2 linked regions of the Homo sapiens genome follow. The protein of the gene in region 2 interacts with the protein of the main gene of each other region in a pairwise test. Each region holds a gene or a part of one and is shown on either strand. Other genes may lie near its edges.

The links. Proteins that work in one complex are often made in the same cells at the same time.
Region 1: the proteins of LITAF (region 2) and DAPP1 interact in binary tests that used the Homo sapiens proteins (3 or more experiments, as listed by UniProt).

Annotation. Positions count from the first base shown.
Region 1 is NC_000004.12:99,861,180-99,868,826, reverse strand, and holds part of DAPP1 (dual adapter for phosphotyrosine and 3-phosphotyrosine and 3-phosphoinositide), read right to left. Parts: intron 7,250-7,647; coding exon 7,202-7,249; intron 5,818-7,201; coding exon 5,755-5,817; intron 5,058-5,754; coding exon 4,972-5,057; intron 3,102-4,971; exon of another isoform or gene 3,032-3,101; coding exon of another isoform or gene 2,991-3,031; intron 2,794-2,990; coding exon 2,706-2,793; intron 2,271-2,705; coding exon of another isoform or gene 2,253-2,270; exon of another isoform or gene 2,209-2,252; intron 711-2,208; coding exon 642-710; 3' UTR 1-641. UniProt on the Homo sapiens protein: May act as a B-cell-associated adapter that regulates B-cell antigen receptor (BCR)-signaling downstream of PI3K.
Region 2 is NC_000016.10:11,555,216-11,563,510, forward strand, and holds part of LITAF (lipopolysaccharide-induced tumor necrosis factor-alpha factor), read right to left. Parts: intron 5,952-8,295; exon of another isoform or gene 5,931-5,951; intron 1,521-5,930; coding exon of another isoform or gene 1,516-1,520; coding exon 1,296-1,515; intron 1-1,295.

The sequences.
Region 1 (7,647 bases), on a different chromosome or scaffold from region 2:
CATCTAGCTCTCACAGTTTTGTCATTAGAAGCAAAGGACCTGCCAAATTTCTGAACCTTTTAAAAAGAGAAAATAAATGCCACAAGCATTTTCTATTTTAGTTTTGGAAATGTTCTTTTTTTTTTGTATAAAGGGGGAAAAATTAAAAAAAAAAACCTCTCCCCTGAAAATATTTGATGTTTTCTATCTGAATATAAATCCTGCAGAAGTCATCTAAGCCTCCAAGTATCTGTTTCCTTCTTGGTTAATAGCACAACCTGGATGTCAGACAGGCTGACCATGACTCACAGTGGGACTCTAGGCAACTAGTGTCAATAGGCTTGGGGACCACAATGAGTGAAAACAAAAACCCTTCCTCTTCCATTGTGTGTTCTAAGAGTGAGCAGACCTAAGAGTGGTGGTTTAAGCACTTTCTATCAGAATGGTGATTGCTTCAGTGTTCTCAAGGAGATGGCAACATCATGGAAGGGCAGCAACGTGAGTCAGCAACGTGGTATATGGGTCCCAATCAGCATCTGCTTCTGATTTGTTTTTGAAAGAAAATCCTTAGTCGGTTTTCATTTGAAGCCTGCTGCAGATCACAGCGTCAGGGAAACATTCCACCTTGCTCCTGGGCCAGAGCATTCCTTGGCAAGAAAGATCTATTTAAAGATGAACGACCGAGATCGGATCGTGCCTTCCCCTTGGTTGAGCTGTTTTCTTATTTGTGACTGTAATAAAGTACACACACGTGTATCCATTATTGAGTGATTGTAATGAACCCTGGCTTCTAACAAATATTAAATAAGACATGTTGATTAGTAAGGATGTCATACAACTCTAAGTTAATTATCATGTGCTCACCCCCAACTATAAGCTAATTATCATGTGTCCAGAAAAATTTTCTGTATTTTTTTTTAGGACACATATTGTAAAGTGATTGCTAAAACATGTACAAATTGGGAATTGGTCTAATACTTACAGTAATCTATAAAATGCAATACTATTCAATGAGTTAAAAGGAAGATATAGATCTAAAATTGATAATATGGAAAAATGTTCATAATATATTGCTAAGTGAAGTGAGCAAATATAGAACACTGGCAAGTGATTTGTTTTGTTTGGAGTTTGTATATTATCAATAAAGATGCTATGAACATTATTGTAACATTTTTTAGTGGATACATGCACTCATTTCTCTTAGATATACCTAAGCATGAAAATGCTGAATTATAGTGTAGGTATATGTATAGTTTTAAAAGAAACTGCCAAGCAATTTTTCAAAGTAGCCGTACACATTTTCATTCCCTCTAGCAATGTAGGAGAGTTCTAGTTCCTTCGCATTCATGCTAATACTTGATATTGACAGTCTTCATTGTATCCGTTCTGAAGGGTGTGTAGTGGTACATCATTGTGGTTTTTACTTCTAGCAAGTGATTAAATTTTGTTTTTAAATATTTATGTGTAAAGAGAGAAGTCTAAAAGTGTGTATACTTGATATATTTTTCTATAATTCTTGTATAATGATTTTGTGTTACTTTGATAATTAAAAATAGAAAGAATAAGAAATTAATCCATATCTGAGCAAAGGTTTCACAAGACAAATTATCCCTCACTGATACATTGGAAGAATTTAAAAATGAATGGTATACTTATTTGAATTTCAAACTGAAAACATAACTGAAAGCAAAAGTCTCAGTATCTAGAAAGGAATTTTCATATATATCAGACAATTTTGCAAAAAATAATTAAGAAAAATATTTTGTTTGAAATCATCTGGCCGGGCATGGTGCTTCACACCTGTCATCCCAGCACTTTGGGAGGCTGAGGCTGGTGGATCACTTGAGGTGAGAAGTTCGAGACCACCCTGGCCAAAATGGTGAAACCCCTTCTCTACTAAAAATACAAAAATTAACCAGGCGTGGTGGCAAGCTCCTATAATCCCAGCTATTCGGGAGGCTGAGACATGAAAGTCACTTGAACTCAAGAGGCAGAAGTTGCACTGAGCCAAGATCACACCACTGCACTCCAGCCTGGGCAACAGAACGAGACTCTGTCTCAAAAAAAAAAAAAAAAAAAAATAGAAAAAAAGAAATCATCAAAGTTTTTAAGATGGTATTTATAGGAAATTTTAGTCAGCTTTAAGGACAAGTTCTTGGCTAAGAACTCACTAACTTGCAAGCACATGAAAAACAAGTAGAAGATTGGTGAAGTTTTATAAGTACTCACTCAGTCTTCTCCTCGGGAGATATACAGAGAGCAGACAAAATAAATCAGCTTTTGTCCTTGACCTGCACAAAGTGATGCTTACATTGGAAACTAAGCTAAGTGCCTCTGGCAAACTTTCTTCTCTAACAATTTAAAAGGCTTTTCAACTAGAGAAGTATGTCAGCTTTCCTCTGTCAGACCTTCTGGTTCTAAATGTCCCCCTCCAGACAAAACTGAACTAACTGACACACCTTATAGGAAGTCTGATAGGTGGTTATTAGGCTAAGGCTCTATGTCTAAGACCCAAATATGGCTTAATTCTTTCTTTTTTACAATCCTGTCTCCATCTCTTCTCATGTCCCAGAAGAATTAACAGACTGTTCCGCAAGCCTGGAAGTAGACACCCAGACATCTCTTTGATTCTTGGGTCTAGTCTGACTCTTTTGATAGAAATATGTTTGAAATCATCAACATGTTATTTCTCAAGACTTGACATCTGAAGGCTTAAAAATTCTCACCAATTTCCAGCGTAATATCTTGATCCACTCATCAGCTTCTACTCCGGTCTTTGCACAGAGATAAAATGTCCTGAATGGAAATACCAAACTAATAGGACAAAAGAAAGAACATAAGATATTGCAGATCATTAGCTATATATATATATATATATATAATATATATAATATAATATATAATATAATATATTATATATATTATATATATATATATATATATATATTAGTTGAACACTAATTAGAGTATTGCAAGGGAAAAAAGAATTGATAAAGGATGCAGGTAAGTACCTTGAAGTGCTGGTATATATGCACCTACTCCTGCCAGCAAACTGCAGAAATGTTAAGGAAGTTGTAGATTCATATTATTATTCCAAGTCAGATGTATATACTCGAATAAGACTTTGAAGAAGAAAGAAACATGTTCAGGACACCCCTAGATCCTTTTGTGGTTCATGTCTTAGGTTAACTCTAACACTTATGTATTCATTCAGCTGATCTCTCAAAAACTTGTGCTATGATCCAAAGAATAGGCAAGACAGAGAAGTTTGCTAAAAAGAACTCATTTGTGTTAGCTTGCTTCAACGAGGATAACTCTGCCTTCTGTGGTTGTGGGCAATTTCAACTATTGGGACAATAAAAAGAGACAATAAAACTAAATTAGTTATTTCTCCCATCTCTGGCCAAGAGTCAGTCTCTGCTGCAGGGAATAAGAACTTTCCTACTGGCACAAAATACTTTTCCTAAATGTATAGTAATTTTTCATTTGACTGTGTCTGATTACCTAGTTAAAATTATGTAAGCAATAAGGTCAGCCCTAAATTACATACTGAACATACTTCCTTACTTACAGTTGAGATGCAAAAATACCAAAAATCTTTTTTCTTTTTGTGAAAAAGCCTTCAGAAGGGTTTCTATATCTTAAAGCCTAAGCAGTGTATTTTGTTGATACCAGCAATTAAAGTTGAATAGGTAAGAGGTAAGTCTCTGTGCATAGAAGCTAATACCTGGATGTGAGGTCTAGTGGAGAGTGAGTGGACAGTGGTGGGGAGGGAGTGATACAGTGCATATACTCGAAAACTGGTTTCTGTCATTGTCATTGTTTGGTACTCCCTATGGGAGACATTATTAACTGTCTATTAATACAGATAATTATCCCTTTCTTTTGCTAACAGAACCCCAAGCAATAAATCCTAATTTGTTTAAGCCAATTATGATCAGCTGCTGGGGATGGCCATGGCACCCGGTCTCATAGGGGAGTTTCTGGAGAAACATTGGTTTTCCTGATAAAAAGGGACAGACACGGGTAATATCATCCCTACATCTTTCTTTGTACTTTGTTGAAAATATGAGACCTACAGGTGTAGTAGACACTCAAATCCTGAAGTAGCCAGCATGAGAAAAGGCCAGGAGAACAGTAGAGACCCTGGACCTGACCTTGTCACCATAGCTGCTTGCCTCCTGATTTTTGGATATATGAGAAAAATAAAGCTCTGCTAGCTCACAGGGCATGTCTATGCAAATTTTAAAAAGACACCCATTCTCAGTTGATATTATAGAATTAACATTAATTTCTTCAGTTGTAATAATGATACTGTAGTCCTATATGTGATATTTTATTCTTAAGAGACACATACTAAAGTCTTTAGGAATAAAGTGCCATGATGTCTGCAACTTACTTTCAATTGGTTCAGGAAAAAAAAAAAGTGGATAGACTAGGATAAAGCAAATATGGTAAGATATATTAATAACTGCTATGGAGGGTATGTAAACGTATGTCTTTCAACTTGTGTATGCTTGAAAAACTTTAAAATAAAAGGTAGTGGGAAATAAGACATTCCTTTCTCAAGACTCTTCTCCCAGTTAGAACATTTTTATAACATACTGATTATGTTAGAACAAAATATTTTTGTGCCATTTGCCAGAAATTGTCATAACAATACAAATCACCTATCATTAGAGTCAACAAAGTTATAAATAAAATGAGGGAGAAAGCCTCAAAGAAATTAAATTGTCTAAGATGTGAATGGCATCCTCTATGTGAGTCATACTTCTCCAGTACGCAACATAAGCTGAGCTGACCTGCCTGTTTGTTTAAGCTACTTTAAATGAGGTGTTATGTCACACTCAGCTGAAAACACTCCTTACATGCAGGCATGCCCCTCATATCTGATCTTTGTAGACATTAAGATATACAGCTTTCTATTCCTTAGCCAAAATAAGTGTCTGGCAAGAAGACATTAAAAAACGTTTTCTTTATAAAACAACTTACCAAAAACAGTTTACCCTTTCTTGTGAATAATCGAATTGTACAGCTGAACATTCTGTTAGGTCTAGGATCCGAATTGGTTCTGGTGACTAAATAAAATAAAAAGCAACGTATGTCACCATTAAAAAAAAAAAAAAAAACAGACAAATCTGTCCCTCACTTATTCCCCTCACAAGTTTTCCACTATGTGCAATTGTCATATTTCCTTTCACTAACAGGACTGACAATAGAAAAGCCCTACCAAGGGAAGTCCTTGGTTTTGGAATGAGCCTTTCATAAAACTGGGCATTAAGTTACTACCTTTATCAACTTACTGATGAAGATGGATTTTAACACATGGAAGAGAGGTATATTTTTCTCTCATTTTTTAAAACTTCTACTTTCTTAGAAATGTTATATAAGAAAAGTGAGAAAAAATAATTTTAAATTGGCTTAATGAAATGGGCATGGGAAATGGAGAAACTGTATTTTTAATAAAGGGACAAATTGCTGCAAAGAGACAGTTAATAAATTGTGGCAAGAGAATAATTACATTGTCCTAAACAGAGGGAATTACGTGCCCTGGGGAACTATGGTTTAGCCAATCCAAGAAAGCAATTTCTGGGACATACATCTCATCTTTGCAAAATAACTCTGCTCATTTCAGGAATCAAGAATTCATATCTCCAATCATTTATTAGGTATTTCAGGTGGATATAAAAATAATTTCAGAGATTTTAAAGACCTAAGTTTCTTTCATCTAGAGAATTGATTTTTAAAGGAAAAATATATTATCATGTTTCTCACCATCTGGTCTTTGAAGTATTTCAGTTCATTCCTGTGCAGAGTAAACCATCTTGTTTTCCAGGTCTGAGAAAAACACACACACACACAAACACACAGACACACAAAGTTTTGAATACAGGAATGTAATATTTGAACCAGATGATTTACTTTCATTTTAAAAGTATCTAAAAAATTAAATACTATAACCCTGAAAAAATTCTTTTGTGTCATTTCTGAGAAAAAAGTTTCAAAATATCTATAAAAATTAAAATAATTTCATGCATTAAGCTCAAAAAATTCTTTTGTGTCATTTCTGAGAAAAAAGTTTCAAAATATCTATAAAAATTAATTTCATGCATTAAGCTCATAATGAAGGCAGATATATCATTAGTATATTTTTAAATACAAAAAGAATTAGTCTATCATAAATATTCAATGTGACTTATAACAAACCACTACAATTTCCATTTTATTAACTCTATAATAAAGATAAATATTGTTCTTTGAGTACCTAATATGGACGATATACTATCATTGGAGGCTTTATATATTATATCCAATCCTCACACAACAATGCCAGTATTATTATTCTTGTCTTACAAACAACAAAACTGAGGTTTAGGAACCCTGACTCACATGATATTCTAAACCTTGCCTAAGAACTCCAAGGTATCAGTGGTAAAAACCATCATTGCCCGCTGTTACCTTCTTATATACAAACAGCATCCTACTCTATCCTGGGTGTCAATGTGCCCAGTTAAAAGAAGTAACAGAGGATTTAAACATAAATATGCTATGAATATGAATACTCTCTGTCCTCAGGGAGCATTCGATCTAGAAGGGACACAAATAATGAAATTATTTAGGCTAATTCCAAGCATGTCAGTGTCTGTGAGAGGTTAAATACCGTGACTCTTAAAACGAGAAGGAGCAGACACATTCCATGAAGGTCTTCTTGGCACATTGAGATGAAACAAAGGAATTCTAAAGATACAGTCTCATAAATGGGGAACATTTGGATACTCTGAACTTGTAAGAGCTTAAATTGTGTTTTTCTTTGGATTTTATAACATAGTTTCAGTAGCATCAGTGATGTTTTTGGCCTATCCTTAAAGAAACATTTTATACAATTTTGACTTCTTCCTTGTTTTAGAAGAAGAACGAAAGATGTTCTAGAGTAAACTTGCTATCTTCATCCTCAATCATTCCATTATGAGGACTATGTTTTATTGACTTTTAACTGCAGGCTACACCTATGCAGGGCTTTGTCAAAGAACAGTCAAGTCATTTTCCAGAATTTTGACTAATGAGCCATAAAAATGAACTCTTGAGTCAGGTGAATATTACAAATGGGTTAAAATGAGCAGGCAATTATGCTTCCAAGAAAAACTATCAAGATGAGAATTGAGTCTACATGACGTGTTCTCTTTTTTCTGTGGCTGGCATGAGCAAAACCACACTTCCTTACCTTGACCAGGCCTCCCTGTTTGGTGAGGTAACCTTCTTTGGTGCCCAGCTGAAAAAGAAAAGCACTGAGTGAAGACCAGAACTGTCACAACAGGACGTTTGTCCTTCCTTTCATGTCCTATTTTTAAATGAAGAATGTTTGCTTTTGATCTTTAAATTACTGTCTATCATTTTTCACCTAGGCACTTGAAAAGCTTCCATGTGTTGTGAGAGATTGTTTTCAGACTGGATCTACTGGCATCATTCTGTAGCTCCTAACTCCAGTTAGCAATTTGCAAACAATAAACGACATCATTTCACTTATAAAAGTCTGTGTTTGTCAAGGTGTGTCATGTGAAATCCAGCTGTTTGGATTGTTACAGGGTTATTAGCACATAAACACGCACACATCTACTGTCAATACGTTTGGGAGACTGGATTAAGAAAACTAAAAGGATGTTTTTACTT
Region 2 (8,295 bases):
ACAATGTCTCACTATGTCACTCAGGCTGGTTTGGAACTCCTGGCCTCAGGTGATCCTCCTGCCTCAGCCTCCTCAGTAGCTAGGATTACAGGCGCAAGCCACCACACCCTGTTCATACATTTTATTAAGTGTTTTTGGGGTTCAAGAATAAGTTATTTGGACCAGGCTCTGTGACTCATGCTGATAATTCTAACACTTTGGGAGGCCAAGGGAGGTGGGAAGATCGTTTGAGCTCAGGAGTTAAAGATCAGCCTGGAAAAACAGTGAGACCCGATTTACACAAAAATTTAAAAATTAGCCAGGTGTGGTGCTGTATGCCTGTAGTCTCAGCTATTCCAGAGACTGAAGTGGGAGGATCACTTGAGCCCAGGAGGTCCAGGCTATAGCGAGCCATGACTGCACCACTGCACTCCAACCTGGGCAACATGGTGAGACCCTGTCTCAAAAAAAAAAAAAAAGAAAAAGAAAAAGAAACTATTTATTGATCACAGGATGGTCTAAGAATCTAAAGTCATTATCTCATCCTCTTCCAGCTCAAAATAACTTGAACACAACAATAAGAGTTCACTTTTATCAAACGAGTACTCTGTATTTGGCACACACAACTTCCTCTCATGTTAACAACTCACTGATATTTATAAATAGGTACTTGATGAAACCTATTTTACAAATGGGGAAGCTGAGGCACAAGGAGGTTATGTGAACCCAGGCAGTCTGATTCACGGGCCCCCTCTCTGAGCTAAAGATTTCTTTCAGAACTACCTGTGATACTAAAGCAGTGACATACCAGGGCACCCTTGGGCGGAAGGAAGCACCAAAGGACAGGGACCATCTAGTTGCTCAAAAGCAGAAGAGCAACTTGCATTGAGGGTGAGCTGGTATGAAAACACAATCACACATTGCTCAGGACGGTTTCTTCTCCTCCCTATTCCTACCTCGGCCCTGGCCTCAGGGCAGAAGTTCTGCATCAGACCTCAGGAGGAAGTGTGCGGGCCCTTAAGACACAAACTCCCATTCTCAGAAGAAAGTTGGTTGTGCCTCCAAGAGATGTGCCAAAAGATTCGTATATGATGACCATGGGAAAGATCCTAAACCATACTTTATTACGGAAAAGCTGTGAGCCTCACCAACATGGAATCTAAAAGACTGCGTGTGGAATTTCAAGGTAAGGGGGTAAAACTGGAACGTACTGGCACTTCACTTAGACTCTTTGGCAGAGTCACTTCGGTCACTCTCCTGATTCCCAGGGTGGAGGGCCAAGGAATGGTAAGGGGGGCCTGGGAGGCCACACGTACTTGGATTGTTATTGGGGATGGGCGCTGGCTGGGTATAATACGAAGGAGGATTCATGCCCTTCCCATCAGGCCCCGTCACAAGCCCCGTAGTTGGCCCAGGCATGGGAGCTGGAGGTGTGGGGTAATAACTGTTAACAGCCACTGTCTCTTCATAGGATGGAGGTGCGGATGGTGCTGAGGAAGGCCCAGTGGCCGCCTGGTAAGGTCCTGGAACCGACATTTTACCTAAAACAGAAACAGAACATACCAGATAAGAAATTCAGTTGATCTCTCCCTCTCTTTTTCACCTAAGTCTTCAATTTTCTTTCTGGCAAACAGAAATTCTGAGAAAATGACTTCCATCCAGCTTTGTCCAAAAGCTAGGAAGAGGGTTAATGTCCCTTCAAGACCCCAGAATTAATCAAAAAGTAAATAATTACTACCCAAAATCACCAAAACCTGGAAAATCCAAAGTGGAAACATCAACCAAATAAGGGTCATTTCTTCTTCACATCTTAAACCATTACCAGACAATGACCTACGTACCTTCCATATCTGGTGTTTCTTCTTCGTTGTTTTTTTTTGTTTGTTTTTTTGTGGTTTTTTTGGTTTTTAAACCACTGTGGTTTTCACTAACTGTTTCAGGTAACGGAAAAGATAAAGGCATTCAAAAACCAACCACAAATTATCACAAATAGCAAAGGGGCCAGATGCCACAAAATGCACACTGTATGATGCTATTTAAATAAAGGTCAGAAATAGGCAAAATGAATCCATGGAGCGGTTACTCTTGGAAGAGGAAGAAGAATCTGGAAAGGGGTATGAGGGGGCCTTTGCGGGGGGCGGGTCCTGTTCTCTTTCTTCACCTGGGGGCTGGTTACAGAGGTATGTTCAGTCTGTAAAAATCTCAGTTGTACAATTAAAATGTATATACTTTTTTGTATGTGTGTTATAGTTTTGTTTTTTGTTTTGTTTTATTTTTTTGAGACAAGATCTGTCACCCAGGCTACAGTGCAGTGGTGTGATCTCAGCTCACTGCAGCCTCCACCACCCAGGCTCAGGTGATCTTCCTGCCTCAGCCTCCCAGGTAGCTGGGACTACAGGCATGTGCCCCCCCGCCCGGCTAATGTTTTCATTTTTTGTAGAGATGGGGGTCTCACTTTGCTATCTAGGCTGGTCTTGTACTCCTGGGGGCAAGTGAACCTCCCGCCTTGGCTTCCCAATGTGCTGGGATTAAAGGCATGAGCCACCGCGCCCAGCCTCTGTGTTATAGCTTTTTAAGAAGGAAATACACATAGACTCCAGTTCTCATTTTGAAAAATGAGCACCAGAGCAGCCAGGCACACATTTTCTTTTGTGAGGGCAAAGAAAGGATTTCCCTCCAGCCCTGGCAGAGCTGCTGCTCGCCTAGAATTACACCCTGCACCCAGAGTGTGCTCCTGTCTGATGTTCCATGATCCAGCAGCCATGGGGCAGCTGGAAGCAGACACAGTGCTGTTCTTTGTGTGGCTGTTTTTCTAACTGGGCAGGGTTCAGGCTGCCTTAGAAGAGCCATTCAAACCTGTCTCGGGAGAAATGGGAAATGAGGCTCCGGGGCAGCGAGCCACAACCACCACTCCCCTCTCCCGACACTGTCTGCCTCATTTTCTAGAACTCGTGGGAAGCCAAGGCAGCAATTAATCCCACTGCAGGGAGAAGGGTAGAGTCCTTCTCAGAAGCCCTGCCTCTAAACCAAGCCCCAAAGAGGAGACTTCTCTGGAGGAACCGAAGAAAGGGTATTCACCTCAAAGTGGAAACAGAGACCAGGTGCGGTGGCTCACCTGTAATCCCAGCACTCTGTGGAGCCGAGGTGGCAGGATAGCCTGAGCCCAGGATCTCAAGACTAACCTGGGCAACATGGTGAGACCCCCATCTCTAAAACAAAACAAAACAAAAGGGCTGGGTGCAGTGGCTCATGCCTGTAATCCCAGTACTTTGGGAGGTTGAGGCAGGAGGATCACTTGAGCCCAGGAATTCACCACCAGCCTGGGCAACATAGTGAGACCCTGTCTCTACAACGAATAAAAAAAGTAGCCAGGTGTAGTGGCACACACCTGTAATCCCAGCTACTTAGGAGGCTGAGGCAGGAGGATTGCTTAATCCTAGGAGGTTGAGGCTGCAGTGAGCCATGATCACTCCACTGCACTCCAGCCTGGGAAACAGAGCGAGACTCTGTCTCAAAAACAAACAAACGAAACAAAGTGGAATAGAGGCGGGGGAGTGAACGTGATAAAAAGAAAGTCAGTAAGTAAAGATAGGTTGGGGCTGCATTCTAGAAAACTTTGAAAGTCCCTTGGAGAACACGTGTTCAAGACTTCTTTCTATCAGAGTGCTGTCCAACAGAATCTTCTGTGAGGATGGAAATGCTCTGTATCTGCTGCCCAATATAGCAGCCACCAGTCACGTAAGGTTATTGGGCGTCTAAAATGTGGCTTGTGGCCGGGCACGGGGGCTCATGACTGCAATCCCAGCACTTTGGGAGGTCGAGGCAGTGGGATTACTTGAGCCCAGGAGTTCAAGACCAGCCTAGACAACATAGTGATACCCTCTCTCTACAAAATTTTAAAAATTAAAAAAATTAGCCAGGCATGGTGTTGCACACTTCTGGTCCCAGCTACCCAGGAGGCTGAGGTAGGAGGATCACTTGAGCCTAGCAGGTGGAGGCTACAGTGAGCCATGATCATGCCACTGCACTCTAGCCTGGGTGACAGAGCGACACTCTATGTCTAAAAGAAAAAAAGAAATGAGCTAGTGTGAGTGAAGAACTGAATTTTTTTTGTTTTAGCTTCTTTTTCATCTTTTTACTTGCCAATGAATTTTTACTTGTATTTAAGTTTAAGCAATTTAAATGTGAAAACTAACAATTCAATTATTGGGAAGCTTTTATGTAAGTCTGGGACAACTTGAATATATGAATCATTTTTTCAATGGTAAATTTGATGAACACTGAATATAGATCAAAATGTTTTTTGATAAAAATTTAGCATTCAATTTGGGATAGAATGTCAATGTAAAAATACACCCTGGGTTTCAAAACTTAGTAGGAAAAAATGAATGTAAAATATCTCATTAATAATTTCTTATATTGATATATTAAAATGACCACAGCTTAGATATATGAAGTTAAGTAAAATGTATTGTTAATTTCACCTGTTTCTTTGTACCTTTCAAAATGTGGCTACTAGGCCGGGCATGGTGGCTTACACCTGTCATCCCAGCACTTTGGGAGGCTGAGGCAGGAGGATGGCTTGAGCCCAGGCATTCTAGATCAGCCTGAGCAACATAGGGAGACACTGTCTCTACAAAAAAATTAAAAATTAGCCAGACATGGTGGTGCACCCCTGTGGTCCCAGCTACTTGGGAGGCTGAGGTGGGAGAATCACTTAAACCCAGGAGTTCAAGTGAGCCGTGACTGCGCCACTGCACTCCAGCCTGGGCGAGACTGTCTCAAAAATAAATAAATAAAAACAAAATAAATAAAAAAGAGGCCAGACACAGTGGCTCACGACTATAATCCCAGTACTTTGGGAGGCCAAGGCAGACGGATCGCCTGAGGTCAGGAGTTTGAGACCAGCCTGGCCAACATGGTGAAACCCCGTCTCTACTAAAAATACAAAAATTAGCCAGGTGTGATATTGGGCGCCTGTAATCCCAGCTACTCAGGAGGCTGAGGCAGGATAATCACTTGAACACGGGAGGTGGAGGTTGCAGGGAGCTGAGATTGCGCCATTGCACTCTAGCCTGGGCAACAGAGTGAGACTCTGTCTCAAAAATCAATAAATAAATACATTAAATGTGGCGGCCAGGCACGGTGGCTCATGCCTGTAATCCCAGCACTTTGGGAGGCTGAGATGGGTGGATCATTTGAGGTAAGGAGTTCGAGACCAGCCTGGCCAACATGGTGAAACCCCATCTCTACTAAAAATACAGAAATTAGCCAGGTCTGGTGGCGTGCGCCTGTAATCCCAGCACTTAACCTGGGAGGCAGAGGTTGCAGCGAGCTGAGATCACACCACTGCACTCCAGCCTGGGCCACAGAGCGAGATTCCATCTCAAAAAAAAAAAAAATGTAGCTACTAAAAAATTTTAAATGATGTAATGAAGCTTGCTTTCTGCTCCTAATATACAGCAAAGCTGTGAGCCGTGGGAGTCACAGAAGGTTATAGAGAAGGGGAAAGGCCCAACCCCAGAAAAGACAGATGAGACAGAAGGTCTTTAAGAGGAGCAAGAAGCAAAGTAGAGAAGGCCACAGAAGCAGGAGGGCAGGGTGGGGCTGTAATGAGATCGCAGGAGGTGTTTGTGAAAACAGGCTCTGGTTTAACACTGAGACATGGTGTAAAGTGGTTTGAGGCGTGTTGCTAGTTTCCTCTGACGTACAGGAACAGAAATGCAGCAGTCCCAGCTTGCCCCTAAACTCAGCGGACATCCCTCCCAGATGACCCCGGGAACCCCTGACATCTGCTTCTGGCTTTGTTGAAACTTCCAGCAAAGGGAACGACAGGGCACCCTGGGGGTCTGGAGTGACCTACATCCGGGTTGAACGTCGAGGACTCGCCGTCACAGCCCCAGACCCACCTCCATGATTTATGGTGAAAACTGACTCGTATAAAAACTTACAAGACCAGGAAAAGCCAGTGTGTACAGAAATCCTCAAGGAGCATGGTTGGTCGTGATTGCCAATGGAATGCTTTGAGGGAAAACAAGGCCTGGGGCATCCTAAACCTCCAAGAGGCAATGGCTGAATTCGGCAGCGGCGCAATTCCTGCAAAAACCACGGCCTCTCCTCCCAAAGTGAGGAAACTGCATCTTTACAGAGTCAACACACAGGTGTGGGGGATGGGAGGATGGGAGCTTTCTTTTGACGACCTTTAAAAGATGGGTGGGCCCCAGTTTCTCGTTTTGGAAATTAAGGCCTCGGCCACCGCCTCTCCCCCTTTATTGAGACCATCTTTCATGTGGTAACATCTTATCTTCTGGGATTTCGAGACACTGCATCTTCTGAGCATTGCTTTGAGATCAAACAGCCACACAAACACATTTATAATTCTGAAAAGAACAAGAGCAACAGGCCAGAATAGTAAAAAAGACTCATAACCGCTGGTTTGGAAGTTTTCTAAATAAATTCCACAGTCTTCCCTCCCTCAGGCCCCAAGGCCAGGAAATGCCACCACGGTTAGTCCCATTTTGTTTCCCTTGTTTTGCGCCTTCATTTCAATTTGGCTTATCTCCTGGGATAAGAGGCCCACCCACCAACCATCCCTCTCCTCATCACCCCCCATCCCCTCCTTATCACCCCCCCAACTACGAAACTCTTAGAACAGCAATTAGTCCCCCTCACCCTAAACTCACACACACACTCTCCACAATGTCTTTTTTTTAAAAAAGAGGGAAAGGGAGAAAGAAAGAGAGAAACAGGGTCTCACTCTATTGCCCAGGCTGGAGTACAGTGGCATGATCATAGCTCGCCACAGCCTGAAACTCGTAGACTCAAACAATCCTCCTGTCTCAGCCTCTGGAGTAGGTGGGACTACAGGTGTGTGTCACCATACCTGGCTATAACTTTTTAATTTTACTTAGAGACAGGGTCTTGCTAAGCTGCCCAGGATGGTCATAAACTCCTGGGCTCAAGTGATCCTCCTGCCTCAGCCTCTCAAAGTGCTGGGATTACAGGCATGAGCCACCGTGCCCTGCCTCTCCACACTGTGAACCTGGGAGATGGAGGCTGCAGTGAGCCGAGATCGTGTCACTGCACTCCAGCCTGGGTGACTGAGCGAGACTCCGTCTCAAAAAAAAAAAAAAAAAAAAAAAAAGAAGGAAGAAAAGAAATTCGAACACTTTTTGAACAAAGGGCCTCGCGTTTCCATGCTGCACTGGAGCCCAGAAATTAAGTAGCCAAATGTGACCGGTGGTGACAGAAAAGGAAAAGGAGGCATTCCTGATCCATGGAGAATTTTGATCTGACATGCCCAGCTGTGGAATCACTTTCACATCTATAAATATGCCACTTGGGATATCTTGGGGTCCCTTTTAGCCAAAAGTTTTCCTCATTCTACCTCTCAACAATTTGCTCAACGAAAGGTATTCTTGCCCAGGCATGTTGGATCACGTCTGTAATCCCAGCACTTTGGGAGGCCGACGTGGGCAGATCACTTGAGCCCAAGAGTTTGAGACCAGTCTGGGAAACAAATTCAGACCATGTCTCTACAAATGGTACAAAAATTAGCCGGGCGTTATGGCAGATGCCTGTGGTCCTGGCTGCTCTGGAGGCTAAGGTAGGAGGATCACTTGAGCCCAAGAGTTTGAGACTGCAATAAGCTAGGATCACGCCACTGCTCTCCAGCCTGGGTGACAGAGCAAGACCTTGTCTCAAAACAAAAGAAAAAAAAATAGAGTCACAAAATCATATATAAAGACAATCTTTAAAAATTTTTTTTAATTAAAAAATATATATTAGCCAGACACGGTTGCACAAACTTGTAGTCCCAGCTATTAAGGAAGCTGAGGTCGGAGGATTTGCTCGAGCCTGGGAGCTTGAGGTTACAGTGAGCTGTGATCACACCACTGCACTCCAGCCTGGGTGACAGAGTGAGACCATATCTCTACACAAAAAAATTATAATAATAATAATTTTTTTTTTTGAGTCAGAGTCTCACTCTGTCGCCTAGACTGGAACGCAGTGGCGTGATCTTGGCTCATGGCAACCTCCGCTTCCCAGGCTCAAGCAATTCTCGTGCCTCAGCCTCCCGAGTAGCTGGGATGACAGGTGCCTGCCAACACGCCCAGCTAATTTTTGTATTTTTTAGTAGAGACAGGGTTTCACCATGTTGGCCAGGCTGGTCTCAAACTCCCAACCTCAGATGATCAGCCCGCCTTGGCCTCCCAGAGTGCTGGGATTACAGGCGTGAGTCACCACGCCTGGCCAGAAATTATTAAAAACCAGAAAAATCATGAAAGGAAAATACACCCTCAGTGGAAGCAACAC